Linked DNA regions of Homo sapiens. The protein of the gene in region 3 interacts with the protein of the main gene of each other region in a pairwise test. Each region holds a gene or a part of one and is shown on either strand. Other genes may lie near its edges. The genes, in order: FHL5, CFAP68, AGXT and EFS.

Evidence for each region.
Region 1: the proteins of AGXT (region 3) and FHL5 interact in binary tests that used the Homo sapiens proteins (3 or more experiments, as listed by UniProt).
Region 2: the proteins of AGXT (region 3) and CFAP68 interact in binary tests that used the Homo sapiens proteins (3 or more experiments, as listed by UniProt).
Region 4: the proteins of AGXT (region 3) and EFS interact in binary tests that used the Homo sapiens proteins (3 or more experiments, as listed by UniProt).

Annotation. Positions count from the first base shown.
Region 1 is NC_000006.12:96,614,245-96,620,012, reverse strand, and holds the end of FHL5 (four and a half LIM domains protein 5), read right to left. Parts: intron 4,405-5,768; coding exon 4,241-4,404; 3' UTR 1,387-4,240; downstream 1-1,386. UniProt on the Homo sapiens protein: May be involved in the regulation of spermatogenesis. Stimulates CREM transcriptional activity in a phosphorylation-independent manner.
Region 2 is NC_000011.10:111,875,547-111,884,309, forward strand, and holds the start of CFAP68 (cilia- and flagella-associated protein 68), read left to right. Parts: upstream 1-3,994; 5' UTR 3,995-4,014; coding exon 4,015-4,059; intron 4,060-5,938; exon of another isoform or gene 5,939-5,976; coding exon of another isoform or gene 5,977-6,069; intron 6,070-6,821; coding exon 6,822-7,052; intron 7,053-7,589; coding exon 7,590-7,656; intron 7,657-8,224; coding exon 8,225-8,334; 3' UTR 8,335-8,763. Other genes in the region: FDXACB1 (ferredoxin-fold anticodon-binding domain-containing protein 1), read right to left, coding at 1-558, 935-1,093, 1,262-1,465, 3,010-3,166, 3,415-3,586. UniProt on the Homo sapiens protein: Microtubule inner protein (MIP) part of the dynein-decorated doublet microtubules (DMTs) in cilia axoneme, which is required for motile cilia beating.
Region 3 is NC_000002.12:240,871,652-240,878,823, forward strand, and holds part of AGXT (alanine--glyoxylate aminotransferase), read left to right. Parts: intron 1-1,327; coding exon 1,328-1,398; intron 1,399-2,326; coding exon 2,327-2,411; intron 2,412-3,457; coding exon 3,458-3,553; intron 3,554-4,283; coding exon 4,284-4,353; intron 4,354-5,885; coding exon 5,886-5,981; intron 5,982-6,370; coding exon 6,371-6,499; intron 6,500-7,062; coding exon 7,063-7,170; 3' UTR 7,171-7,172. UniProt on the Homo sapiens protein: Peroxisomal aminotransferase that catalyzes the transamination of glyoxylate to glycine and contributes to the glyoxylate detoxification.
Region 4 is NC_000014.9:23,355,212-23,363,247, reverse strand, and holds the end of EFS (embryonal Fyn-associated substrate), read left to right. Parts: intron 1-2,414; coding exon 2,415-2,693; intron 2,694-2,966; coding exon 2,967-3,107; intron 3,108-3,208; coding exon 3,209-3,931; intron 3,932-4,282; coding exon 4,283-4,372; intron 4,373-5,587; coding exon 5,588-6,022; 3' UTR 6,023-6,842; downstream 6,843-8,036. UniProt on the Homo sapiens protein: Docking protein which plays a central coordinating role for tyrosine-kinase-based signaling related to cell adhesion. May serve as an activator of SRC and a downstream effector. Interacts with the SH3 domain of FYN and with CRK, SRC, and YES.

The DNA.
Region 1 (5,768 bases), on a different chromosome or scaffold from region 3:
CATCAAAGCAGAAAAATTCAATTGAAGTGGGATTTTTTTCATGAAATATTTTCAGAGTCACAGAAATAATAATTAGAGGATATTTTTAGTTTAGAATATTTTCACCATTTTATTACTGTAAGAAAGAGCATAGCTATGGATCCCCTAATTTAACAGAAGAGAGATTCTGTTTGGGTCGGACAATTTTGTTTTTTTCCTATTAATGCCCTGAAATAATATCTGAATATATAGTTATAATTTGAATGTTGTAAAAACAGATGGGTAATAGAAGGTAAAAGTTATCATGTTTCTTTATGTAATCGAAGTAGAAACACTACAGAATTTATTCCACACCTATTCTGTTTACTAAACAGTTAATGTAAAAAATAAATCTTTAAAAATAATGTGAGTAATATAGACTATGTAAAATGTAAATTTATTCAGTATAAGAGACTTCTAAAAACCAATGTATAAAATTAGCAAAAACTGTATCATTATCATAATAAACATCTATCTATAGGTGCATTACAGACTATGTGCTTGATTAAATATATCTAAAACATACCGTAACAACTATTTTCTTTTTTTTTCTTTTTGTTTTGAGAGAGAGTCTTGCTCTGTCGCCCAGGCTGGAGTGCAGTGGCGCCATCTCGGCTCACTGCAAGCTCCGCGTCCCGGGTTCACGCCATTCTCCTGCCTCAGCCTCCCGAGTATCTGGGACTACAGGCGCCCGCCACCGTGCCCGGCTAATTTTTTGTATTTTTAGTAGAGACGGGGTTTCACCGTGTTAGCCAGGCTGGTCTAGATCTCCTGACCTCGTGATCCGCCCGCCTTGGCCTCCCAAAGTGCTGGGATTACAGGCGTGAGCCACCGTGCCCGGCTAAACAACCATTTTCTTATTTAAAACACAGACAATTAACAATATGCCAAGTAGATTAAAAGTTATTTTTTTCTTAAATTCAAAAATGGTATTGCTAACATGAAATGTGTTTTTGGATTGACTTTTCATTTGTGATATTAAATTTGGCAGTTTTTTTTAACCATTTGTGATTAGTGTTATGCATTTTTCATAATGGTAGGCCAATATTTTACTCTAATGAACAATCTAGTGTTTCTTTTTTTTAAGTTATAGCAACGATGTAAGCTTTGAAGCCTGGATTGTAACATAACCACATTTTACTTAACCAGTGGAGCTAGTTTGTCCCAATTTAACACTTTTATAATGCCAAGTTAAAATTGAACCCTTGGGCTTCCTAGTCATTATTATTGAAGCAGAAATACATTTTTGCTTCTTTTGTCATCTTTAATCCCCAACATGACAAAATAAAATATTTTGACTTGTTGACTTGCATACTCATCTTTGCCAACAAATGTAACTCGTGGCCTTCAATGCCTTCTTCCTCTTTCTTTTCACTTTTGTAGCCATTAACCAAACTTATTCCTTCAGTAAGAAACTTAATCCTTGGAACCTTGCTTTCTTTGGTTCTATTCCACAAAGGATCAAAAGCATAATTTTCCTCAAACACTACAATAATTATTTTCTTCCTTTACTTATGAACAGTTGGTAACTTTCTATGGCCGGTTATGTCACTTTTTATCCTAAGAGTTAATATTCTCCCTTCCTCTGACTCTTTCTCTTTTAGCAATCTTATTTTCTCCTGCTCTTCGGCAGTCTCTGCTACTTCCAAGCCATCTGGTTGTTATTGGCACATGGGATTTGCTTTTAACTTCTTTCCTGCCCATGCAGATGTCACCTTTGAATTACTGGGAGCCCACTGTTTCCTGAGTCAGTCCATTTCATCTTTGGATAAGTCCATTAAGGAGTTTTTCTCTTTGTTACATAAACCATATAAATCAACTATATAATTTTTACATTTATCTTTGTGTGTGTTACGCAAAGACCTAAGGAGGTCTTTTTCTTAGTTGTTTTGCATATGTGTGCTATGTCTACATATGTGGTGCTTTGTTTAACCTGCAGGCAAGGATCTTTGCATCAGGCACTTCTGCATTTCCATACCATGATCCATCCTCCTACAACTCCAGACCCACAACAGTATAAGCTCTAACTTTTGGCATAGTACATGTTTAATGGATGTTTGATGTGTAGGATACCTTCTAAATGCAGAACTATTTATATGTAAAAGTATATATATTTATACTTATGAAAGGATAATAAAATCTTTAGGAAATGATTCTGTGAATTTTAATTGTAAAGCTAGAATACAAGTCTGATCATGTGCATACTCACTGCCCCCACACAGTAAAATGCCTAAACATTTCCAATTGTTTAACTAAGAAAACATTACATGTTGTATATGTATCTATAATTGGTTAACAGAGAAGATGTTACATGTTATATATCTATCTAAACCTAAGTGGCTTGGTTTTCTCTATGTGTAATGTGCTATTATTTTCTATATCATAGATTTAGTTCTACCTGTGAAATTTCATATAATGCAGAAAAAATATTGATAGTTTTGCCTGTATTTTTCAATGTGAATATGAAAAAATACCTTGGCATTGTTAATCCAAAAATACATTTATAGTTTTCAAATAGTCTATCTAGCAGAACACTTATTAGTATCTCTAAATTATTAACATCGCTGAATATTCTTGCATTTTAAACTATTTCAAAAATTATTTCCATAACAATTTTAATTGAATCTCCTGTGATGCTATTTTGGTAATTGTAATCAGCAGTATCTTACAATTAGATTTTAATCAAAACCTTTAATGCTATAATGTGTAATCTGAGAGAAGACAGTTATATATCTATGTGGGCTTCTTCTCCTGACCTCCCTCTACTCCATCCAAGAGATGCTATAACCAATGTGAAAACAGATCATGGAGAGCAGAGGTTGCTTTCCATTTGTCCCAAGTAATGTGGAAAATATCCAGGGGTAGCAAGATAGGGTCATGATCAGTTAAAGTCTGGTATAAAGATAAACCTGGTGATGGACTTCTCACTAAGGCTCTTTACTTCCTGTGTGATCAATAAACACTGACTGACTTATAGGACAGTTGCTTAGGGTTAGGAGTGCACCTCCTGGTTATGCAGGAGATTGAAACTGGGGGCACAACTGGCTTGGGGTAAGGGGGGTGTGGCACAGGTGTGGGGGAAGAGTGGGGAGGGCTCGCCTACAGCCCACATTACTCTATTGTGCTGCTTTGCAGGTTCTGAATTATCAGCAGTGAATTATTCTTTTTCAGCTTTTATTATTACTAGATTTCTTTAAAGCCCACTTTTATGTCTGCCCATTAATCATTTATGTAATTTTAGAAGGCAATAATGCATGAGGCACAGAGCTAATTATGCATTCTATTATGTCGTTAGATATCTGGATGAAAGTCATGTTCCAAGACTCAATCCCTTCCCTAAAACTCATTTCCACAAGTGAAGATTTAATGATCTATTTATTTTAAAGGTTTGCCTTTGGGGACAAAGATTATCCTGGTTAGCTCCACTTGAAAGAATAGACTTTTATTTCATGGAATCTGTAAGCGTTTAGAAAAATCACTGTGGACTTTGAAAATATATTTAATACAAAACGTGTTGAAACCCATGCTTTGGCTATCCCTAGGTAGAAATGATCCTCTTTATACCTATGCAGATTATGAGAGCCATAATGTCCTCAGTTCTCATATTCCATTGAGTAAACACAGAACTAGCAAGCTGTGGAAGCAGTGTGTATGAGGGCAAATTGTAGCTTTGTTTTTTAATTCTACAGTCAGTATGTGTGAAAAAAAGGATGATTTTTAAATGATAACAATTCTTAAATGTGATAATTGCTAATGAATTTACTCTGATCAGTTTTGTTCTTTTACCATTCATAGCTAATTTATCACATTACATATAACCAGGAATGCAAACACTAGCCTCATGTATACCTCTCAGTTTGATCTCTTAGTTTTTCTTTTACTCTTCAGGTATGAAAAACCTCATTCTTCAGTAATTACATCCACAGCTCCTAGGTATATGTCATATATTTGATTATGAAGAGATATTTTCCTCTGCTTCTAACAGCAGAGTGCAGTATTTTGCAAGGAGAGTTGTCTTTGTGATTTAGCATATATTCATTTCTGTTCTACTGTGCTTTTTGTGTGCTTAGAATATAGTTCGATCAAAATGTGTGCAAAAACTTTTCCACTCTAAACTACATGAATATTTTCTAAAACTTAAGTCAAAAATAAGACCGCAACTGAGTTCTGGCTTTAGTGACAACGAAGGCAAAATGGATTTTAGGTGGGCAAGGACTGTCTCCTAGATGTCAGTGTCCATTCCGGAGCCACATTTTTGGCAGAAGATTTCCTTGTTCTGGGTCAGGAAGCCTTTACCCACCAAGGAGACAGAGCATTTCCCGCAGTTAAAGCATTCGCTATGCCACTGGCTGTCTTGAAAGCAGATAAACTTGGCACCTGTGAGACCTGTAAAGGAATTGGAGAAAAAGATTAATCTATCCTTTCAAGGAACAGATTGAGCATTCTAGCAGATGCTCCTCTAGGAACTGGAGATAGAGCTATGAGCAAAACAACGCAGAGGCAAATAACCCAAAAAAGAATGCTGCTTCCTGGCCCTGTGTCCATCTGGAACTATCCACTGTAGGAAAGTTACACCTATGCCACCCAACCAGATTCACAGCCAAATTCTGCCATAATCAACAGAAGAAGGCAGAATGCTAATATGCAAGTCAGGTATTTTTGGAAACAGATAAGGTTGTCTAAGCCAGATAAGACAATACAGTGTAGCATAGTGGAAAGAAGGTATAGGTTGTGAAGTCAGAGATATCTAAGTATGAATACATTTCCCCTTTTTCTCTATATGACTTTAAGTTTTCTTAGCTGCAAAATGAAGATAAAAGGAAATAAATGTATGCTTCCTAGTTTGATGTCCAATGTTGTAATGAGTTTTAGTTTTCTTCTTTCCCCTCATTTTTCTGTGCTTAGTTGTACTTAGAATATGTCCTGGGGTTATACGGTTTGGGACACTATTTCTAGAAAGCATAACCAAATAGAGGATTTTGTCTAATCATTCAGCCATCCTAACGTGATGGCCTTATTACCTTGCTCAGAGCCAGCTTCAGCTTTTGTTGAATCTGGCCAATGAAGCCACGTTATCACGTGATTGGTTTCTAAGAGCTTTGTCAGCCTCCTCCACTTTAACTTGGGCCTCACTTGAACCATACTGTTTCTTTAAAAAGTAGTCGAATTTGAATCTTCGGTGAGGGTCTGATCTCTGTCTCCTTAATGTGATTCCAGGGTATAGTTCAAGAAATTGATTTTGAGAAGTTACATTAAAGGAGAAAATGTTAGGGTTTGGGAAGAGGTTGAGATGCCCTAGGCTTGGGTCTTTATTTATTTCATGTTTTCTCCCAGTAATCTTAGTGCTATTATTTGCTTATCATCCATGGAGTGAGGCTAAAAGAGTTATGTAATTCATATGTAATTTCCAAATACTCCATTTGGAATGGTGAAGTGAAAGGGTGAATAGCATTCTATTTCAGATACATTCTTCTTAAATAGGATAATGAACTTTTGTTTCCATCCTAACAAACTTATTTGATGTCTTCATATATAATTTAGTAGTTCATACAGAAAATTGCATCAAATTTCTCTACTTTCCTTGATTAAATTTATAGCTTGCTTATCTATGATGCTATCAACATTACTTCCTAATAAATGTAAATTAATTATGTACTACTTAATTCCCTTAATGTTATTCAAAACATTAATAAGCTGACTGCAAGAGTAATGTTCTGTATATACATAAATTATGCTGTTCATAAAACTAA
Region 2 (8,763 bases), on a different chromosome or scaffold from region 3:
CCCTTCAGATGATCCAGCAGTGATTGAAGACAGCCATCCTTCAGATTTTGATTAACCCCAAGGATAAATAAAGTTTCATGAAATGCTGGCATTGTGAAAGGCAAAATGTGGCACTTCTGAAAGACAGGTCCACTGAGGATGTGCAGAGAACCTGAGAGGAAGTCTGGTACTTCGATGACATCCTGAACATGCACTAGGAGAGAAGGTCTAAGGCAGATCTTGGCCTGGCCACAGGTTCCTTCACAAGCTTCTTCTTTACCATCTCTTCCAGGATTCTTGAGAAGGCTAAGTTCTGAAAATGACACTAGAAAGTCTTCCACATCTTGTGATGTCCCACCAGTCAGGGACTCAGAATTTGAGTTATCTTCATGGAGACTAATCCAAAAAGCAGCTGACAGAAAGTCACAATTCCAGAAAGGAAGAACACTGGTACCTTCCTGTGGCAGCAAAGGGTAGGAACACTTCAGCCTTTTTAGCGGGAAAACTTTGCCTAATTCAGCAATGAGTTTCTCATTTATGGTTTTGATAGGATGACATGAAGGTGCTTCCAGGAAACCCCTGTTTAAACACACACAAAAATAACTTTTCTAACTTAAGATAGTAAATAATTATAATGTAGCTAGAATTAAAAATACAAATAGCTGGACAGAAAAGAATTATCTTTAAATTGATCTTGAAAGGAAACAAAGAAATCATCTACCATAAGGAGAAACAGACGTGTATTTCAGAACTCTGACAGCCACCATCCCTACAATATATCAGAAAATGTGACCATTTATAATTCTAGAGATGCTTAAGGAGGCCAGGCTGACAAATAAACATAGCACCAACATCACTAACAATTTATGCACCATCCATTCAATATATGGTTGCCATCAAGACAATCAGGATACAACTGGAGATGGAAGTGATTTCCAGCAAAATAACTGGTTACCTGTTCAACTTTCCTACAAGTGCTTCTGGTTCTGGAAAGGAAAACCACTGGTTACCCAGTTTGATCCTGAAGATTCTGGGTTGAGAACCTTCAAAAGGTAAGCTCCTGGTGAAGATATGGTTCAAAGCACCTTCTACATGAAAGGACTTATCTTGACTCCTGGCAAAATAGACACCAATATGAAGTCTGTCATTATTAAAATAAGCAAGTATTTTTAGAGACCGAATCAATTAATTGGCAGGGCCTATTGAGTCTGTCTATGAGATTTTGTTATCATTAGTGAGAGAGATGAAAACGCAGAAGGCTTAAACCTATGCTATTACCTACCTATATCCAGTGCACTTGTACCCTGCCACAGCCTTACAGCTGAATGGATACACGTCGCTTAAAATGAGCCCCCCCAGGGCTGCCATGGCAACCACTTGCCAACTGTTGTGCCATTCTCTCTGGGGCTTATCCGCAGGAGTTCCACCTTGTCCTCTACATAATGCCACGTGGACTTCTCCTTCCTCTGCAAGAACGTCTGCACAGCTAATAGGGAGAAAAGAAACACTAACTAATTATCATAAACAAGCAGAAATTACCACAGGAGTTGGCAACATACACATGGTTTGCCTGTGAAATAATTAAAATCCAATCATACCTATGTGCAAAAATCTATTAGACCTCAAAAAATGCAAAGAAAGTAGCTGGAAGTAAATAGAAGCATAAATTAAATGTTCAACCCACTCACTGATAAGATTGGCTGACCAGGGTCTGCTTTGCATTTGTGTCATTCATGCATATGTCACAGAAAGATCAATATCTGCACAGTTCCTATATATGATTCATTGCTTAGGCTGTTTCTTCCCATTTAGAAAGTTCTTTTCACTGCCCTCCTGAAATTCAAATACTAGTTTAAAATACCACCTCTGTCAAAACTTTATTGACAGCTATGCCCCATCGGACACCTCCAATAGTATCATGTCTTGTGGTATAATCATGTAAAGCACTGTTTTCAGTTCACAATAATTTTATGAGGCTGTTAGTTACTTTTTTTTTTTTTTTTTTTTTTGAGATGGAGTCTTGCTCTGTCGCCCAGGCTGGAGTGCAGTGGCACGATCTCAGCTCACTGCAACCTCCACCTCCCAAGTTCAAGCGATTCTCCTGCCTCAGCCTCCCAAGTACCTGGGACTACAGGCACGTGCCAGCACGGCCAGCTAATTTTTATATTTTTAGTAGAGGCGGGGTTTTGCCACTTTGGCCAGGCTGGTCTCAAACTCCTGACCTCAGGTGATCTGCTCACCTCGGCCTCCCAAACTGCTGGGATTACAGGCATGAGCCACCACGCCTGGCCCAGTTAGTTACTATTAATATCCCTAGTTTACAGTTGAGGAAACGGAAGCATGTAAAGATTAAGTAAGCTTGCTTAAAATAACAACTGTTGGCCGGGCGTGGTGGCTCATGCCTGTAATCCCAGCACTTTAGGAGGCCAAGGCAGGCGGATCACAAGGTCAGGAGATCGACACCATCCTGGCTAACACGGTGAAACCCCATCTCTACTAAAAATACAAAAAATTAGCTGGGCGTGGTGGCGGGCGCCTGTACTCCCAGCTACTTGGGAGGCTGAGGCAGGAGAATGGCGTGAACCCAGTAGGCGGAGCTTGCAGTGAGCCGAGATTGCACCACACCACTGCACTCCAGCCTGGGCGACAGGGCGAGACTCTGTCTCAAAAAATAAAAATAAATAAAAATAAAAAAATAACAACTGTTAAGTGGTGGGCTGGGATTTGAATCCAGGCAGTCTGGCTTCTAAGTGCACGTTCTTAGCCATTAGACTATATGGCTCTCATTATTTTGCACTGTCAAAAATAAATGATCCTCTTTTACACACCCAAGAGTACATTATTTGTACTTTCATTTAGCATTTAGGGTTTATATATCTGTCTTTCCAACTAAACTTGGGGTTCCTTTGGGGCTTTATAGTCTCTTCTAAACATATCATAGTAGCTTGCACGTGTGCCTTATGTTTGGGTACAGTAACTATGTTATGGACATCTTAAACATTTTCCTTGTGAGGGCGCTCCTTTCCTCACCTTTGGAAAAATTTGGCAAGCAGTTCCCTGTTCTTAGCTACGCCAGCTTTGCGTCCACAATGCGGGAAGATGAAATAAATTTGATCAAATTCTCTCTCGTGCAGTTCAAAGACATCTGCCAGCTGGGTGCAGTCCACACCGAAACGTACATCGATACCTGGCAAAGATAGTTTGGGGGCGCAAAATATAGACAGGAGGATGCCTCAAGACATGGAACAGAAAAACTCTTCCTAACTTAAACCGTGCAGACCAGCCCAAGTCTGGGCACAAAGCCGGCTTTATGTGAATATCCGTGGGACGATCAAGAACAATCTCCACGTGGGTTACATCCCCACGCCCCCACCCTTTCCACTTTGGGACGCGCCGGCCGCTGGGCGGGGTTTCGCAGAGGGGCGGGCTCGCTACCTCGCTCGCGCAGGCACTGCAGATTCTCCCAGGCCAGTGGATCCCGAGCCAACTCGGCCGGGCGCTGGAGGCAGGTGGCGGTAAGTTGAGTGCTCTGATCCAGGGTTTCGCTCAGAGCGGCGGCGAAGGAGAAATTCCCCTCCCCAACCAACAGGAGGCGCCGAGGGGCCATGGCCTCCACGGACTCCCGGCTCGCGTTCTCTGTGGCGCTCGTTTTACGTCACTTCCTTCACGGATCTCTCTCCGCCCCGTCTTCTCCCGTCACTAGTTGATGACGCACCCATGGCGCCTGGTTGTCTAGACGAGCCGGTGTACCGACTCCCCGGTGGATGATAACTATGAGTGCAAAAGCAAGACGCGCACTTTCCTGTCACCTCGCCCTTTCACCCCCTCGGGAAGATCAAAGTGTCTTTAGCCCAAGCATGGCCTTGAGCGACTTCATCACACCTGCATGAGGTCACAAGCAGTCACTAGCGCAGGGGGGTGAGGCGAGTTCTGGGTGAAAGAAACGGGGCGGGGCTGAGGCCAAGGAAGAGGTTGGACTGTGTCTCGCATGCTCCTGACGCAGAAGGTTTTGAACCTTTTTTCACCTCGTCTGAAATGGCTGCCTCCCAGTGTCTCTGCTGCTCAAAATTTCTCTTCCAGGTGCTTAAATCTCCTATCTTCTATTCGTTCAAGAAAGAGTATTGAGTGTCTATTGCGTGCCAGGCCACTGTGAGGGTGGTTACGATATGTGGATGAACAAAATGTGGCCTATGATTTCAATGAGCCTGCAGTCTGGTGGGGAATGCACAGAGCAAAACAGGCAACTCTGATATGGCAGGGTGTGTGCTCTGGGAGCACACAGAAGAACGTTACCAAGTTTGGGGGCGAAGAGGGTCAGAGAGTCCTTGGATGAAGTAAACCCGAGTTGAAAGCTAACAGGGTAAAAGTGCATCTTAACTGAGTCAAGAGGCGTGAAGAGGCAGAAGGAACAATATATGCAAAAGCTTGATGGAGAAACAGAATAGTTGAGTTTGGCTGAAACACAATTGGAGGGAGAGTAACAGATGAGACTGAAGAGTTAGGCAGGGGCCAGGTCATAGGGAGCGTTGTAAGCCTTTAAAAAAAATCAACTTTTATTTTACAAATGGGGGTACAGGTACAGGTTTGTTACGTGGATATATTGCACCCAGGTAGGTTGCAGGTTTGCTACATGGGTATATTGCACCTAATAGTTTTTCAACCCACACCACCCGCCCTCCCCACTCTAGTTAGTAGCCTGGAGTGTGTGTTGTTTCCATGTTTAGGTCCATGTTTGCTCAATGTTTAGCTCCCACTTATAAGTGAGAATGTCAGAGGTATTTATACCAGAGCAACTCCGTCTTGAATAGGGGCTAGGTAAATAAGGCTAAGACCTGGGCTGCATTCCCAGTAAGTTAAGGCATTCTTAGTCACAGGATGAGATAGCTCAGCACAAGATACAGGTCATAAAGACCTTGCTGATAAAACGGGTTGCAGTAAAGAAGCCAGCTAAAATCCACCAAAACCGAGATGGTGATGAGAGTGATCTCTGGTCATCCTCATTGCTACACTCCCACCAGCGCCATGACAGTTTACAAATGCCATGGCAAAGTCAGGAAGTTACCGTATATGGTCTAAAAAGTGGAGGTATGAATTAATCCACCCCTTGTTTAGTATATAATCAACAACCATAAAAATGGGCAACCAGCTGCCCTCAGGGTTGCTCTGCATATGGAGTAGCCATTCTTTATTCCTTTACTTTCTTAATAAACTTCCTTATGCTTTATAGACTCACCTTGAATTATTTCTTGTGTCTCTTGGGGTCTGGATCAGGACCCCTTCCGGTAACAAGAACATGCTGTATTTGGTTCTCTGTTCTGTTGTAAGCCATTTTAACAGACTGAATCTTACTCTGAAAACGGTGGAAAGCCACTGAAAGATTTTAAATAAGAAGATGATACAATTATACTTTCACTTTGAAAAATTCTCCTTTCCTGTGGAGAAAGGTTTGGAGAGGAACAAGGCTGATGGCATGGCAGGATAAAACAAGAGGCAACTGCAATAATGGAGACAAAGCTGACAGTGATTTGAATTGAAATTTGGCAATGGGAATGGAGGGTGGCAGTCTGATTCAAAAATCAACAAGACTTAGTGACTGGATGAAAATTAAAGACAAGTCAGAGTCAAAGATAAGCCCCAGGCTTCTGGCTTGGACAACTGAGTGGATGGTGATGTCTGTCATTCCAGCCCTAGAGACAGTTACACCTAGATCTCCAGTATGAGTACCAGGCCCATTGGACTTTGTGGCACCAGCTACTCTGGTCATCATGTTGTTTGGTAACATCAGTGCATGCATCTGTCTTCACAAAGGCAGATGGTATGAGGGTAGTTACCTGGGATGTCATCCTTCAATGCTGCATTATTGGCTTTGTTTCTGCCTGTGGAAAGGCAAGTGGGTGGTGACTCCCAAATCATGGCCACTTGCCCATGGTAATCTGGGTGATTCTTTCTTTGCTTGGAGAACTGGGAAAGCCAGGTTTGTTGACATCTTTAAAGAACATGGAACAGCCAAGTAAGGATTTCTGTGACTCTCATAAGAAATCTTCAAAGAGCTCAACCTACTCAGCATCAAGTTACTCTTCTTCAGGAAAGGTATCATCTTCCTAAGTCAGGGGGCCAGACTCACATTTTGGGGAAAAAGAAAGATTGAGCTTTTATCTTACCAAAAAAAATGAAATCAGACATTGATCATCTGGTATATGCAATCCAGATTGATTGGGAGAACAGGCAGAAGGACAGGGTACAATAATGAATAAAACAGATCCTGTCCTTAAGGGGCATACAGCTCTGTATAGGAGATATAATGCAGACTTAAAGAACTCTAATGTATGGTAAAAAGTTATAAATACAGGGAAAGATAAAGTTTTATGTGAGTTGAAAGAGAAGCTAACTTCAGGGAAGGCATCATTTGAGCTAGAAGGAAGGAAATGATCATTTATTACTCATTTATTGTGTTATCTAGTTACTCAACTCTCACTTCTTTTTGTTCTCTTTGACTGTAGCAGTGCTTTTAGTCCCTCAATGCCTACATCTCAAAATTACCTTAAAAATTTAGCTAATTCTCCATATTGTATTGGGAATACTGAAGTTTTTCCTGTCTCTTCACGGGGCCTGGGGAGCGGGGGTGTGGATTTAATCCATGTAGTCACCCACTGTTGCTGATTGAAAGAATGGATCAAAGGGTCCCAGGACTTAGAGAAGAAGAAACAGAACCATAACATAGCCTGGATCATTAGTACGGTGTGCTTGTGTTATACCTGGCTATGTAAAACAAGGGCAGGAAAAGATGCTTTTTCTCTTCTCTGGTTTATGCAATAAGCTTTTCTATTCTTGTCTTTTCCCAGAGACAGAACCTCGCCTGTTTCCTCACAAACCCACACTGTGGCAGCCTTGTTAATGCAGATGGCCATGGTGAAGTGTGGACAGATTGGAATAATATGTCCAAGTTTTTCCAGTATGGATGGCGATGCACCACTAATGAGAATACCTATTCAAACCGTACCCTGATGGGCAACTGGAACCAGGAAAGATATGACCTGAGGAATATCGTGCAGCCCAAACCCTTGCCTTCCCAGGTAATCTAACTTTGTCTTTTTTGTTTGTTTGTTTCCTTCTGTTGGCAAAAGAAATGTAGTGGCCATTTGAAATGCAGGGATGTAATAACTTCTGGTGCAGTGATCTCTCAGTTTTCAGTGAAGTGGTTGGGGCAGAGGAACAGTCCGCAGCTGAACCACCTATGCTACTTTACTGTCAAGTTGAATATTTTATTATCTGTAAGGTTTCAAAAGGAAGGGCAGTCCTCTTTTTCTCTTACTTCTGTTTGGACTTTATCTCTTAGTCTACAGAAATTTATAATGTCTTCTGACTTAGACTAGCTTTTCCCCTGGTCCTTGCCTATCTAGACTTGTCATTTATCTGAGTCTTGCACTTAAATCGCTCCTAAACAAACAAACGTACAAAACATGTGAAAGTTAGAAGGATATAGACTAACACCATAGAACTCAGTCCATCTAAAATATGACAGTCCGTGAGAATTCATGTCATATTGATCTTTATTTCCTGATGTTAGCTGTAGACTTCCAGATTCTTAATCTGTTAATTTTTCTTTCCAGTTTGGACACTACTTTGAAACAACATATGATACAAGCTACAACAACAAAATGCCACTTTCAACACATAGTACGTGGACTGTTTTTTCAAATTCTTACATTTTCAGAACCTAACTCAGTGACCGGCACATAGAAGGAACTCAAATAAAAGTAAACTGAATAGGTGAATAAGTGAGGCTGGGCGCAGTGGCTCACACCTGTAACCCCAGCACTTTGTGAGGCTGAGGCAGGCAGATCACTTGAGGTCAGGAGTTTGAGACCAGCCTGGCCAGCGTGGTGAAACCCCATCTCTACTAAAAAAAATACAAAAATTAGCTGGGCTTGGTGGCGCATGCCTGTAGTCCCAGCTACTCAGGAGGCTGAGGCAGGAGAATCACCTGAACCCGAGAGGTGGAGGTTTCAGTGAGCAGAAATCAAGCCACTGCACTCCTGCCTGGGTGACAGAGTGAGACTCTATCTCAAAAAAAAAAAAGAAAAAAAAGGTGAATAACTACATGAATGAGTAAACAGGATTTTTTCTTCAATTTTAACAGGACTTACTGTCTATTCCCTAGAAATAAGAGCAAGATCAGTTACTAAAACTCCTTAGTGTTGACTGTTTTCATTTGTCTTTCCTTCCTTTTTTTTTCTTCCCTCAGGATTTAAGCGAGAGCCTCACTGGTTCCCAGGACATCAACCTGAACTGGATCCTCCCCGATACAAATGCACAGAAAAGTCAACTTACATGAATAGCTATTCAAAGCCTTAAATTGGGCATCACTCAGGATGTGTATAAGATCTTAATATTGACTAGTTTCACATCCAGGTTTCTAAGAAATGATAAGATACTTCACTTTTCCAGAGTGAAATGTAGGAGGGAGCACATTCTAAGTACAGCTAAAAATTTAGCTCACTGTAACACAGTTTCACTCTCTGAATAAATAAAGCAAAAAACACAGTAAATATTCTTTATCCCTTTTTTTGTTGTTGTTTTAACCAAGATTTAAATGTCAAATTTAATACAGCAACTCAGTTCTACATTTGGGGTGTTGTAGAAGGGCCTTAAAAAGAATTATTTTAGGCCAGGCACGGTGGCTCATGCCTGTAATCCCAGCACTTTGGGAGGCCGAGGCAGGTGGATCACGTGAGGTCAGGAGTTCGAGACCAGCCTGACCAACATGGTGAAACACTGTCTCTA
Region 3 (7,172 bases):
TGCTCCCTGGCCGAGCGCCCCCATAGTGCCCACTGACCTCTGTCCCCAGGGCTGAAGAGGGCTTGGTGCAGACTTCCATATCTTGCCAGGGCCTGTCCCCACCTCACCCCGAGATTGCCAGGACACTAAAGCTGCCTGATGCCCTCCACTTCCCTCCTCCAGCCTCCCTCATCCCCGCATGGGGGTGCACAGGGCAAGGCCTTGAATGGAGTCAGATGGGATTCCTGAGAAATGCGGACAGAGCCCCTTGGGACCCAGCAGTCCCGTCTGCAGGTCTGAGCACAGGACAGAGGAGAGAAACTCCACGGCCAGGGAGGGTCCTTCTGACAGGGCCCCCAGCCCAGACAGCTTGCTGCATGGACCGTGGCCATGAATAAAGCTCACAAACATAACCTGGCCAGCTTCAGCAACACCCAGGCCATCCCCACCTGCGGCCAGCACGAGATACTTTCTGTGTCTCTTTTTTCTTTATAAGAAAACCTGGAGGTGGAGGAGGGTGAGAGTTTGTGAACATGGAGGCGGAGGAGGGTGAGAGTTCGTGAACATGCAGGCGGAGGAGGGTGAGAGTTCGTGAACATGTAGGTGGAGGAGGATAAGAGTTCGTGAACATGCAGGAGGAGGGTGAGAGTTCGTGAACATGCAGGAGGAGGAGGGTGAGAGTTCGTGAACATGGAGGAGGAGGAGGGTGAGAGTTCGTGAACATGCAGGCGGAGGAGGGTGAGAGTTCGTGAACATGCAGGTGGAGGAGGGTGAGAGTTCGTGAACATGCAGGAGGAGGGTGAGAGTTCGTGAACATGCAGGAGGAGGAGGGCGAGAGTTCGTGAACATGGAGGCGGAGGAGGGTGAGAGTTTGTGGCGCTGCTGCTTGGGCTGTTCTGGGACTCTGTCCCCTCTGGCCTAGATTCTGGCCAGTGGCTGGGCCGAGCAGCTGTTGGCAGAGGTAGGCCCAGCCTGGTGCCACCCTGGTCCCTGGGGTCCACACAGGCCCTCAGGCACCCGCTGTCCCTGGGAACCACAGACTGCCCGGCTGACCCTCTTCAGCACCACTGCCGGGCCCTGCAGCTGGGTCTCACCAGGGCCGTGATGCTCCCTCACTCCCCCAGCTCCCTCTGCTCCAATGTTCAGGGCTGAGAAAGGAAGAGCCACAGGTCCTGATGGATCCTGACAGGCAGGAGAAGGCAACTGGCCAACTCCTGGGGTGGAGGTGGGAGGTGCCCTGCCTTCCTTGCCAGCCTGAGGCTCAGAAACCCCATCCAGCCTGGGGCCAGGCCCTCCAGTGGCCCCCTGCCTCACCTGCTGCCCTCCATTCTGTCCCCCACCTCTCCAGGTACAAGTGCCTGCTCCTGGTGGATTCGGTGGCATCCCTGGGCGGGACCCCCCTTTACATGGACCGGCAAGGTAAGGGTGGGCTCTGAGAGCCCTACCCAGCCCAAGCAGCCTTGGGGCTCCGCGTGCAGGAAGCCCTGCTGGAAGCGTGCGTCCAGCAGCCGATGCTGCGGATTCGGCCCCATCTCCACCAGGCCCAGGGAAACACTCACTCCTTACTGCGGCAAGAGCGGCTCCATGAACTACCCAGCACCCCAGTGTTTCCACTGAGCTTTCAGATCCAGGCGTGGGGACTGGCAGGAGGGACAGCTTCTGGTGGGGGACATTTGAGATGCCCCAGAGCTGTAGCAGAAGCAGTGGGAAGAGGAAGGGCCAGGGCTCCAGTCAATCAGGCGTTGGGCACCCCTCTGCCCAACCCCCCAGAGGCTCAGTTTCACATCTGCCCTGCGCCCTGCCAGGCTGCCCATAGCAGTGAGCACCACTGTCAGGGTCACCTCGCAGGGAACCTCAACCAGGCCGGCCGAGGGGCCAAGGAGCCTCCTGTGCCCATCCGCTTACGGGAGAGAGCCTGCACATTGCATCCACTGCGGTGCCTGCCCACCCACTCCATGGGAGCCTGTCTGTTTCTGCAGAGCCCCTCCTGATTTGGGAGTTCTCAGGCAGGAAGGGAGGGATTTCTGGGCTGATCCTCAAACTACTACTGAAAGCAGGGACCTGGGGAGGGCCCCAGGGACACGGTGCCTGGGGTGGCAGGGCTGTCCCTGGGGACCAGCACAGCAGAGGGAGAAGCTGCGCTAAAACGCTCAGGCCTGAGGTCATGGCTGCCACGCAGCAGTGCCCAGATTTGAACCCAGGACTCCCTTCCACATCTCCCCTGCTATCGTGTACGGATTCGTGGTAGGGTCGTAGCCTACCAGCCCATTAGCTAGGCAGGCATCCCGCTGGACTGGCCTGCCCTGAGGTGGGACTCACCCGTCCCGAGCAAACCACCCATCTACAGGCATCGACATCCTGTACTCGGGCTCCCAGAAGGCCCTGAACGCCCCTCCAGGGACCTCGCTCATCTCCTTCAGTGACAAGGCCAAGTGAGTGACCCACAGACCCTCACCTCTGTGCAGGGCTGGGCTTGCAGGGAGCTCAGGTGGCCCGAGGCGGGAGGGGCGGGAGCCAGGCAGGAAGGGCTCCCCATGCTCCTCCAGCACCTGGCGCTCTCCCGCCCACCCTCTGGGAGGCCAAAGGCACTGCGTTCACAGGGAGTGGGGAGGCCGGGCGAGGGGAGGGCTGCAGGCGTGTGCAGGGTGCAGAGTCCACTGCTCTGGAAGTTCCCAGCTTCACAGCAAGGAGTGACCAGGAAAGGACTGAGGGCCTGAGGCCCAGTGCCCTGACCGGCCTCTGCCCTGGCTCAGCTTCCAGGGGCTGCCCCAAGGGACAACGTGGGCCACACACAGTGCCCCCTGCAGTCCCAATCTCACCTCCCGCTCCTGGTGTCCAGATTCTGAGCCAGGCCGGGCAGGGGGTAGGGGAAGGGGGCCAGACCTCACAGGCGGTTCCCATCCAGCTGCAGCCTGGCAACTGGAGGTGCCGTTCCCCAGAACAGAGAGGACTTCGGGGAGAAGTCAGGAATTCGGTGTTGGACGTGGGAGGTCTGAGATGCCAGCTGGACCACACGGGAGGGTGAAGGAAGCGGCTGGGTGTGAGTCAGGAGCCTGGGGAGAGGCCGGGGCTGGCCCCTCCATCTGGAGTTGTAGAGACGGACACATTTAAAGTTTCAAGCCTGGCCAGTGTCCCCTGGGGCCCGAAAGCAGTCACCTTTGGGTGATGTGAGAAATGAAGGCTGACCCTGTAGGAGGGGCTGGGGGAGAGAAAGGGGCACACAGAGTGGAGGGAGCTGGCCTTGGTGCCCCCATGGCAGGGTCACACAGCTGGGCCCAAGGGCCAGCGGGACTGGACAGCTGAGGGACCCACGACCCACCCGGTCCCACTCTGGCCCCTGAGCACAAATGCAGCTGGGGCGGGCCCTCCTGGGGGCCCCACCCCGTCTCACTCCCGTGAAACAGGACAGCCAGCGAGACTGCCCTGGCCTTCAGCCCAAACTGAGAGGCTGGTGCTCAGCCTGCTTCTTTCTCCCCAGAAAGAAGATGTACTCCCGCAAGACGAAGCCCTTCTCCTTCTACCTGGACATCAAGTGGCTGGCCAACTTCTGGGGCTGTGACGACCAGCCCAGGATGTGAGGCCTGGCAGGGATGGGAAGGTGGAGGGCGCTGGGCATGGCTGAGAGGTGGGGCGCTGGCCTCTCACTGCACTCAGGGATTCTCCAAGCCCCCCACCTTCATGCCTCAAGAACCCCAACTAGAGCCCCAGAATCCGCCTGCATCAGGCAGTCAAATGCCCCACCCTGGGTTCCCCCATTCCTCGACTGGCCCGAGGCTCTGGGCAGGGTCATGGCCCCCACTGCCGCTTCCACAAACACTGTCCCCCCAGAGGTCCCAGCACACCCTCGGGCACTTTGGACCTGGCCCTGCCACATCTCCCCACTCCTGGGCCTCAGCTTACCCCTTCTGAAAAGACGACCTTGGCCATAAACCCAAGGCCCCTTATGTTACACACAGGAACAAGGCGCCAGGAATGGTGCCCTAGCCCAGTGGGCACAGAGGGCCAGTGCCGGCTTCGCAGGCACGCTGGGACTGAGGGGCTCCGCAGGGAGGTGGTGGCACGTGTCTCTGCTCCTGCAGCCACCCACTGCCTCCTGGCTGGGCCCTACACAAGCCATGCTCTCCCTGGCAGACGAAGCTGCCTTCCCGGTCCAAAGTTCTGAACCCGGACAGGACTCCTCTGCGGAGGATACCGGCCTGTGGTCAGAGAGCCTGTGCTGTTGGGGCTGGGGCAGACAGAGCTAATGCCCCATCTGCCCCCAACCCTGCCCATGGTGCTGGACCAAGCCCCCTCGTGTCTTCCAGGTACCATCACACAATCCCCGTCATCAGCCTGTACAGCCTGAGAGAGAGCCTGGCCCTCATTGCGGAACAGGTGCATGGGCTGCACTCCACAGGAGGAGACAGGGCCACTGGCTGGATTGTCGAGGGCGCGGCCTGCAGAGAAGGAACCATCCCTGGTGCACAGAGAAAAGGGAGCCTGCCAGAGAGAGGCCCTCAGTGGGGGTGGGGGAGAGAGGACAGGGCCCCGGGTACACTGGCTGCGGGCAGGGCCAGGGGGATACAGCCCCAGGGACAGATGCAGCAATGGGGCAGGTGTGGATGCTCCCAACCCTTCCATTGCTGTGTGAAGCAGTAAGTGAGGCCCAGTGAGTGGGTGGGCTGGGAGAAGGGGAGGCCGAAGGGGCCAGAGATGTGCCCACAGATAGGTGGGCGTGGATGTAAAGTGAGGGTTGGCAGTTCCTGCAGGCTTGTCCAGCTCCTATGGCAGGGCAAGAGCTGAGCATGAGCACTTGGGTGTGACCAGGGGTTGATTTGGCCACTGCAACATCCACACTCTCAGGACACTGCAACATCCACACTCTCAGGACACAGGCGGCTGAGAGTGGCCTCAGGCCCAGCAGCTCTGCAGGCCACGAGACAGGAAGTCCCACCTACTTTCATCTGGGTCCTGTGTCCCACAGGGCCCATTGCCAGCCACCAGTCCAGAGTCCAGGAAGGATCCCCGGGCTGCAGCCAGCTTCCCATGAGGTTGCAAGGCCGTGCCTGCCACGTTTGTCCTCCTGGGTCCACTCATAAAGCCACTGCCTAGGGCTGGGTTAGTGCCAGGGTGCCCCTGTAAGCTAAATGCCACCCGCACCCGCGGGGGAAGGCGAGGGGTCAGGCGCTCACACAGGGAAAGGCTCTAGGGTCGTAAAGGTGGGTGGGGGGTGTGAGCTGGGCAGAGAAGGAAGAGAACAGGACCAGACAGCAGGGCACAGTCAAGGGCAGAGGCACAGGGACCTGGCAGAGTGCAGATTGCAGGGGCACATGCGCAGAGAAGACGGGCCAGGGCCAGAGTAGAGAGCAGCTGCTGCTCCGGGGACCCACCTGGGGTGGCCATGAGAGCTGGTGGCTGGAGGCCGGGAGGACCCGTGACCAGAGGTAATGGCACTGAGGGGCCCAGGGCTGGAGAGACCACCCCTCACCTGTCCAGAGCTGAGGCAGGAGCAGTGCTGCGGAGGATGCCAGGTCGGGGGAGCTGGCCCTGAGAGGAGAGGGGGCCTGGGAGCCAGCACCCTGAGCCCTGGCCCTGATCCACTCCAGCCCTGTGTAGCCCAACAGCCCTTCCCCTCCTTGCCCAGTCCCCTCCCCCTGCAAGGCACTCTCCACTCTTCTCCCCCAGGGGCCACAGGCAGACCTCCCCTCTGTCTCTCTGAACCCTCCTCTGTCTCTCCCAGACCCAGATGTTTCCTTCTGCCCTGGGGTAGTCCCAGGCCCTGCCCCAGGCAAAGTCAAACTGGGGGCTCCAGGGGCTCCCCTGCACCAAGGCCTGCAGAGTCAGGTTCTTCCTCCCGCACCACAGAGGGCGGGGCTTCCTGCCCACCCCACCCATGTCACTGCCCACCAGCGCCATCTCCCACACAGGGCCTGGAGAACAGCTGGCGCCAGCACCGCGAGGCCGCGGCGTATCTGCATGGGCGCCTGCAGGCACTGGGGCTGCAGCTCTTCGTGAAGGACCCGGTAAGGAGGCCCCTGGCATTGGGCAGCCCTGCACCCATGGGGAAGGATGAGGGGCTCTTGCCCAGCCCCCTCAAGAGGGACACTGGCTCCTGAGAAGGAGGGGGCGGCTGCCCGGTGGTGTGGCCTCGGTGCCAGGGATTAGTCTCGGCAGGAGCCACGAAGTCACAGCTCCCGGCCTCTGATGCGGGATCTCAGGACGGCCTGTGATCTCCCAGTGGGAAGGTGCCCATCCACCGCCTCCTAAGGGGTGGGGTCCCTGCTCTCTCCCGGCCCTTTCTCCCCCGGCTCCTCTGGAACCTGAAGCTGGGGCAGATGGTGCAGGCCAAGAGCTGTCACAAAGGCCCGTACAGGGCCTCTCACCCACGCACTGAGCCAGGCCCCTCCTGCAGGCGCTCCGGCTTCCCACAGTCACCACTGTGGCTGTACCCGCTGGCTATGACTGGAGAGACATCGTCAGCTACGTCATAGACCACTTCGACATTGAGATCATGGGTGGCCTTGGGCCCTCCACGGGGAAGGTGAGAGGGAGCGCCTCGAGGGCCTTTTGCAGAAACCAAACCCGCCACCCCTCCTTGAGCAGGACTGTGCACCAGGTGCAGGGGAGGCCGGGGTCATCCGAAAGCCCAGATTGCAGGAGCGTCCAGAAGGGCCCACTCTCCAAGGGGTATCCAGTAAAGCGTATCCTGTCGCCCCTGCTCCCACCCCAGCCCACTGAGGTCACCAGGTGCAGCCTTTATGATTCCACTCGGAACATCCTTCCTTCCCTCTGACCAGACCCTGGAACCAGGCCGGAAGCCCCACGCCTGGGCCTGGCTGTGTCTCTGAGTGGCAGTGGGGAGGGACCTTCACTGCACCACCCTGTCCTCCCGTGTGGCTGCGGGTGCAGAGGGAGGAGAGCCTGCCCTGGCCTGGGTGCTCAAGGGCCCCCTCTGTGACCTGCACAGGGCTGTCAACTCCCCTCATGGACGCTGGGTGGGTGGTCCTCACTCAGGTGAGCCCATCCTGGCTCTGGCCAGCTGTCGGTCAGGGTCAGGCAGGTCCCAGGCGGGAGGCTGACGTCAGCCCGCCCTGTGCCCCCCAGGTGCTGCGGATCGGCCTGCTGGGCTGCAATGCCACCCGCGAGAATGTGGACCGCGTGACGGAGGCCCTGAGGGCGGCCCTGCAGCACTGCCCCAAGAAGAAGCTGTGACC
Region 4 (8,036 bases), on a different chromosome or scaffold from region 3:
TGCCCAAAGGAACCTGGCTAGAAAGGGACAGACCTGGCTGGGCGCAGTGGCTCACACCTGTAATCCCAGCACTTTGGGAGGCAGAGGCGGGCGGATCATGAGGTCAGGAGATCAAAACCATCCTGGCTAACACAGTGAAACCCCGCCTCTACTAAAAATACAAAAAATTAGCCGGGCGTGGTGGTGGGCGCCTGTAGTCCCAGCTACTCGGGAGGCTGAGGCAGGAGAATGGCGTGAACCCGGGAGGCGGAGCTTGCAGTGAGCCGAGATCGCACCACTGCACTCCAGCCTGGGCGACAGAGCAAAACTCCGTCTCAAAAAAAAAAAAAAGAAAGAAAGAAAAAGAAAGGGACAGACCTCCAAGCAGTGGGTCGCAACGGTAATCCCAGGTATTTAGGAGGCTGAACCCAGGCATTCGAGGTTACAGTGAGTTATGATTGTGCCACTGCACTCCAGTCTGGACCACAGATCAAGAGCTGATCTCTAAAGAAATATTTTAAATAAAATTTTAAAAGAAAGAGACACAGCCAAGACTCAAGCCCAGGTCTGCCTCTAGAACTGTGCTTTTAATCCCCTGGCTAGATCCAAAAGACTGATTTATAATTTACAACTAAAAAGAAAAGTGCAGCACTAACCGGGAATTTGTGTCATCTGGTTAGCACGTTTCTTTGTGTGGGACAATATCCTTTAGAAACCAAAATATAATCAGAAAATGGTTTGATGAGTTGGGAATCAGGCAAGAAGAGGGGTCAATTTGTTGTTAAAATCACCCAGCCATGAGAGGCCGGATAACCTCACCACCAGAGGGAAACATCAGCTAAGAGGAATATGCACTCCTGCTGACTCTAGCAGGGCATCCTTCTCCCCAGGGTCTGGTGGCAGCCTGCCTGAGATCTTTAACTTTGAGATTTTTTTGCTGAATTAGTCAGTCCGTTTGGCTACCTGGCTAGTAATGCCTAACTAGCTGCTCTCCAACACTACATGTAAGTCACCACTGCCTGGGATCCTACCAGCAAGCATCATCATTTAGCAATCAAAACTGAAGCTGAATGTAATTGTATGTTTTGAGTGGTTTTAGCTTGATTCTACCAAATGACATCATGGAGCAAGAGCACTGCGAAGGGTTATAGCAAAGGGAAATAGGGTATAAGAAGGCTTTCCTATGCGCTTGACTTGCTTTTGAGTTAGGGACCCTCTCAGCCACTGTTACTACTCTTTCTTTTAAGTAGATTCCTACATTTGTAATTGTGGAGAAGCAGTAGCACAAGTGATTGAGAGCGCAGGCTCTGGGATCAAGCAGCTTAGGGTTCAGATTATGCTCCACAAGCTGTGCCAGCGATATGGCATCAGACAAAGTACTAACCTCCCTCTTCCAGTTTTCTTTCCAAAATGGGGTAATGACAGTCCCTCCCTCGTAAGGTTGTTGTGAGAATTAAATGAGATGAGTTGATTAATGCAAAGATTTGCACAGTGTCTGGAAACGTTGTTTGCACTTGGTACCTGTGAGTTATTACCTGAGCCTGTGGCCCTTGATGGAAAAAGCTTATAAGCCCCCACCAGACAGGACTGGAAACAGAATGATACATGTTTCCTTTTGGTTGGCCTGCCAACCCCCTTCACACACACACACAAAGACACACTCTGTCCTGCAATGGAAGGGCCCATTGCTAAATGATGATGCCTGCTGGAAGGATCCCAGGCAGTGGTGACACACACACAAGAATACACACTTTTCTCCATGGTAACCTCAGCCTCTTCTGGTAGAAACTTATTTGCTCAGACTGAGAGCAAAACAATTGCTTTGTTTCTGTTTTCTTTCTTATTATGCCTAGGCACACTGTCTGGACTAGGCCTCTCCCAGTCTCTCAGAATGAGAGGTCTCTGTGGCTGCTTAATCTAACCTTTTGCTAGTGAGGGATAATGACTTGGGAACAGAGAGAAGGTCTATGAGAGACTGTAGCAGGGCTTCACATGTTTTGGAAGACATTCATTCAACATGTGTAATGACCAATTCCAGGTCAGGCCTTATTGCAAGGACTAGAAATATAGCCGTTCCTATGTTCATAGGGTTTACAGTATAAGGGAAGAAATCGATACAAAAGAAGCAAATAGACAAATAGTATAAAGTACGAGGATGGAAACAATAGGTGGAGACAAACAGAGAATGGGGCGGGGAGAAGAGTAAAGAATCGGCCTCTCTGAGGAGAGCTGGTCTAGTTGAAGGAACTGAAAGGAAGAGGGAGAATGCAAGCGGTGAAGCTGGAGAGAAGCTAGGGCCCAGGCAGAAAGCTGCATCCAGAGTTCAGGTTTTTTAGCTTGAGGGAAATGCGGAGCTCCGAAGGGTTCTAAGCAGGGGTGACGTGACCTGAAAGGGGTCTGAAGACCCTTCTCCCCACTCCCACCTCCCCAACCAGACCCAGCTGGCCCGGGCACTGTATGACAACACCGCTGAGTCCCCCCAGGAGCTGTCCTTCCGCCGAGGGGATGTCCTACGGGTCCTGCAGAGAGAGGGCGCTGGTGGACTGGACGGCTGGTGCCTCTGCTCCCTACACGGCCAGCAGGGCATTGTGCCCGCCAACAGGGTGAAGCTCTTGCCTGCTGGCCCAGCACCCAAGCCCAGCCTCTCTCCTGCGTCCCCAGCCCAGCCTGGCTCACCATATCCAGCCCCAGATCACAGCAATGAGGACCAGGAGGTGAGAGTGGGAGCCTCCCCAACCCCAAGCCAGAAGAGCCCCATTCCTCCCCAACTAGCCCCACCCAGGGCCTGCAGCAGGTGGGCAGGAAGAGCCCTGAGGCCACAGCTCTTCACTGCTCTGCGCTGGACGAAACCTGTCTACCAACCTTTCTGAGCTGTGGCCCTCTCGATACAGGGAGAGTTAGAAGGTCTCTAAGCTCCTCGCACTCAGACATTATCTGATCACCGGCCCCTCCGTTCCTCCTGACCCCCCATCTATTTGATCCCTCAGGTGTATGTGGTGCCGCCCCCAGCTCGGCCCTGTCCAACCTCAGGACCTCCAGCTGGACCTTGCCCACCCTCTCCTGACCTCATCTACAAAATCCCCAGAGCTAGTGGGACCCAGCTGGCTGCTCCCAGAGATGCCTTGGAGGTGAGGGCTAGAGGTCCCTGTGTATGTTGGGTGGGAGACAAATGGCCCCAAGGGAGGGTTCATCGCTGAGCTGACAGATGACTGACCACTCCTTTCCGCAGGTCTACGATGTGCCCCCCACCGCCCTCCGGGTGCCCTCCAGTGGCCCCTATGACTGCCCTGCCTCCTTTTCCCACCCTCTGACCCGGGTTGCCCCGCAGCCCCCTGGAGAGGATGATGCTCCCTATGATGTGCCTCTGACCCCAAAGCCACCTGCAGAGCTGGAACCAGATCTGGAGTGGGAAGGAGGCCGGGAGCCGGGGCCCCCCATCTATGCTGCCCCCTCCAACCTGAAACGAGCGTCAGCCTTACTCAATTTGTATGAAGCACCCGAGGAACTGCTGGCAGACGGGGAGGGCGGGGGCACTGATGAGGGGATCTACGATGTGCCTCTGCTGGGGCCAGAGGCTCCCCCTTCTCCAGAGCCCCCTGGAGCCTTGGCCTCCCATGACCAGGACACCCTGGCCCAGCTTCTGGCCAGAAGCCCCCCACCCCCACACAGGCCCCGGCTCCCCTCAGCTGAGAGCCTGTCCCGCCGCCCTCTGCCTGCCCTGCCTGTCCCTGAGGCCCCCAGCCCCTCCCCAGTGCCCTCTCCTGCCCCAGGCCGGAAGGGCAGCATCCAGGACCGGCCTCTGCCCCCACCCCCACCCCGCCTGCCTGGTTATGGAGGCCCCAAGGTCGAGGGGGATCCAGAGGGCAGGGAGATGGAGGATGACCCAGCAGGACACCACAATGAGTACGAGGGCATTCCGATGGCCGAGGAGTATGACTATGTCCACCTGAAGGTGAGCGCCCCTTGGCAGCCCCACCAGGAGGGACCCCAGAGGGACCAAGGGGAGGGGTGTGGAGACCTAGGGCACAGAGGCAGAGCCTCCCTGCCTCCCTTCTGTCCCCCTTCCCTCTACCCTGCAGCCTGGGACCCCAGTACTTGGCCACAACACTTGTACCAGTGCCACACTGTTCCTCCTAGACCCAGCCTGGGGCCACCAGAGCTCTCTGGAGTCAAGGGACTACAACCTCTGATAACAGGAGTGTCCTTCGGAAGGAAGGGGGTCCGGGGAAGGGGCAGAAAGGCCACAGAGGCCACCCCGTCCTGCTCCCCCACCCCGACACTGAGACCTGATCCCCTCCTGCAGGGCATGGACAAAGCTCAGGGATCTAGGCCCCCGGATCAGGCCTGCACAGGGGATCCTGAACTGCCCGAGAGGGGGATGCCGGCGCCGCAGGTGACCCTGGCGGGAATGGTGCTAGAGAAGGGGACAGGGGAGGGAGGAATGGGGACTTGGGAGAAGAACTGAGCCATCAACCGTGGAAGGAAATAGGTTAGGATGGAGTGAGAGTTCACAGGAACCAGGGACAGAGCGGAGGCAAGTTAGAAATCTACAGGAAGGAACTGGACCTTGGAAGAGGATGTTAGGAATTCAGAAAGAGGGGAAAGAATGTGTTGGAGAGGAGTCAGAAAATCAAGCAGCCAGGAGAGCAGAAAGTTTCTGAGTTGTGGGGTCAGAGCTGGGCCTGGGGACTTCTGAGCCTCCTTCCAACTGTGAATTCCTGGGCTCCTAAGAGACCTGGCTTCTAATCCCAGCTTCACTACTGAGAAGCCAGGGGCTTTGAAGCCGTCAGTTAATCTCTCCAGGCCTCAGAAAGTGAGGTGGTTTCCTCAACCCTGCGTAGAATGGTCGCAACACAATAGCTACCATTTATCAGGTATTTACCAAGTGCCAGACCCTGTGCTAGGCACACTGCACGTGTTAGTATTAATCACAGCCACAGTTAACACTCATCTGGTGCTCACAGTGTGAAATGCACTTTGCTAAGCCCTTTCTGTATATTATCTCAATTGACCTTCACTGCAGCCTCATGAGGTACATACTAGAACTGCACTATCTAGTACAGTAGCCACTAGCTACATATGGCTATTGAGCACTCAAGATAGGCCTAGTTCAAATTGAAATATGCTGCAAATATAAAATGCAGCCTGGATTTTACAGACTCAGTATGGGAAAAATCTCAATAATTTTCATGTTGATTATATGTTGAAATTATAACATTTTTATATTTGGAGTTAGATAAAATATATTAGGGTTTTGTTTTTTTTTTAACCACTTTTAATGTGGCTACTAACACATCTAAAATTTCACATGTGGTTCACATTATGTTTATATTGGACAGTGCAGTCCTAGACTCCCTGTTTTAGAGTTAAGGAAACCAAGTTCAAAGCCTTGTCCGAAATCAAGTTTGAGGTTGTTTGAATCCAGATCTATCTGATATCAAGTGTGGGCACTTCACTGCTGCTCTCTCTAGAATCTAAACTTTCCGATGGGCAGAGGTAAGAGCTAAAAGGATCGCCCTTGGGAAGAAAGAGAGGAAGGAGAAAAGAAGTGAGGGAGGAAATGGCACTCATGAGAATGTTCTCTCTGACCACTCCTCTTGCCCTTCAGGAGGCCCTGTCCCCAGGGGAGCCACTGGTTGTGTCCACCGGAGATCTGCAGCTCCTGTACTTCTATGCTGGGCAATGCCAGAGCCACTACTCAGCCCTGCAGGCAGCCGTGGCAGCCCTGATGTCCAGTACCCAGGCTAATCAGCCCCCGCGCCTTTTCGTGCCCCACAGCAAGAGGGTGGTGGTGGCTGCTCATCGCCTGGTGTTTGTTGGGGACACCCTGGGCCGGCTGGCAGCCTCTGCCCCTCTGAGAGCACAGGTCAGGGCTGCAGGTACAGCACTGGGCCAGGCATTGCGGGCCACTGTGCTGGCTGTCAAGGGAGCTGCCCTGGGCTACCCATCCAGCCCTGCCATCCAAGAGATGGTGCAGTGTGTAACAGAACTGGCAGGGCAGGCCCTGCAATTCACTACCCTGCTCACTAGCCTGGCTCCATGAAGGTCCTTTGGCACAGCTCTGCTCCTCCCCTGCCTGCCAAAGCCCCCCTTTAGGCCTTGGGTGGCTGGAAGGCTTTGTTAAGGGACTAGGAGAAATGGGGGTATCTTTCCCCTTTCCTGCCCTTTCTGCTCATCTCAACCTCTCACAGAGGTGTCTTCTCCCCCTAACCTACAGCTTTTTGTACAAGCCATTTTGTGTAAATTATTTATATTTAATATTATTCCCTGCTTTGTCAGGAGCAGGTACTAGGCTCTGGGGCAGTGAGGAACTAGATCCTTCTCTCCTCAGCCTAGGGTGGAGGTCACTGCACTACCACCCACCTCTGGAAGACTGGCTGTGAAAAGTCAGGTGGCAGAAACCTGGGGCCACATAGAGCCTCTCTCTTTTCCTGTTTCTTGGCTCTAGAAGATCAGCACTGCACTGTTAGCTGAGAGTGCGGGCAAGACATAAACTGTCCAGAGTTTGAAGGTTCTCGGAAAGACCGGAGGGCTTCTCCCCACAGAAGGCGGAGAGAGCTGGGGCTCAGACATGGGTGTGCACCTTAATAAACCCTGCTGTCTGCCTCCCTGACTCTGCTTCTTGGGAGCATGGTGAGCAGCCCTGGTGCTCAGCAGCCATACCTATGGGACACACACTACGAAAAGGATGCCTTTAGGGTTTGGGGGAGATTTTACTCCTTTCTTCAACAACTATTCACTGGACAAGTTCTCTGCTCCCATGACGCGCCAGGCACAGTTCTGCAAGTATATTGTGAATGTATTGTTCTAGTGGGATACACAAATAAGTCAGTTAAAATACATAAATAAAAACATAAACCTGCCATAGATTCGACATTTGCTGGTGATGGACGTCGGCAGGATGATTTGAAGAAACTAACTAGATGAGGGGAGAGGGCAGTGAAGGAGACTTTAGACAGGATGGTTGGGAGGTGAGATCTGAACTGAAACCCAGAGGAGGAGAGTCTGAGGACTAGTGTTCCCAGAAGGCAGATGCCGATGACTGACCTGAGGGCCTTCCTCCAAGACTTCATTGTCATATGATGTCATTAGAGAGGTGTCAATGTGGAGAGAAGCTGACCACATAAGGGCCTTGAAATGTGCCATCCTGGAGAGGCCACCCCAACTAAAGGCCCAGCCTCAGCTTTGCACCACAGGATAGCCCTGGCCAACTGGAGACTGCTGCTGGCCAGTCTAGGCACCCTCTTCCTTAGGTGACACCAAGAGGGTATAGGCCTTTTCACTTGGCTTCCCAGGTAGATCATCTCAGGATGACCTGCTCATCATCCTTCTGGACAAACCATTTTCTGGAGGATCCGCGGTTGCAGATGAATGCAATGTGTTGAAAGGTCAGTCTTCAGGACTTTGGTGAAATTGATAAGACCGTGGCTTAGATAGATCACGCTAGCCATTTACCACAAGGGAAAACATCCAAGCTACAAATCAATTGCTTCAGTTCTGCTTTCCCAAGATATTACCATGGCATGATGACTGGATTGGGGGCATAATCATAGTCTGTTGGCACCCCTGCACATTTGCCTCCTCCCCTTTAGGTTCCTTTCTCATCTCACTCTCAAAGAAAAATGCACTGTCAGATTCTGGGGCCAACAAAATTCACCCCCATGTGTTGAAGTCTATCGTCCATCATCTTCCAAACAGAATTTCAAGAGATTAGCCTGGAATTAGAGGTTTCAATTCAAGTCTCTGATCTGCCATGTAGTTGTGCATCCATGGGTAAATCATGCCAGTCCCTCTGAAGTCCTGGTTTCATCTTCAATATTAGCATGATCATAATGGTCTTACAGGGTTATTGTGAGGACCTAACAAGAAAATGCATGTGAACAGCCCCACAATGTATAAATTAAGTGATTATTATTCCAGGACAGACACAAGGATGCAGACGATAAATCCCCAAGGAATATTGGCTATACAGCACCATAGTAAAACCTGAAGAGATGCTGAAATGAGTTGGGAGAGGGGAAGTGGTAGGAGGCTGCTTGATGCATTAGCAAAGAAAT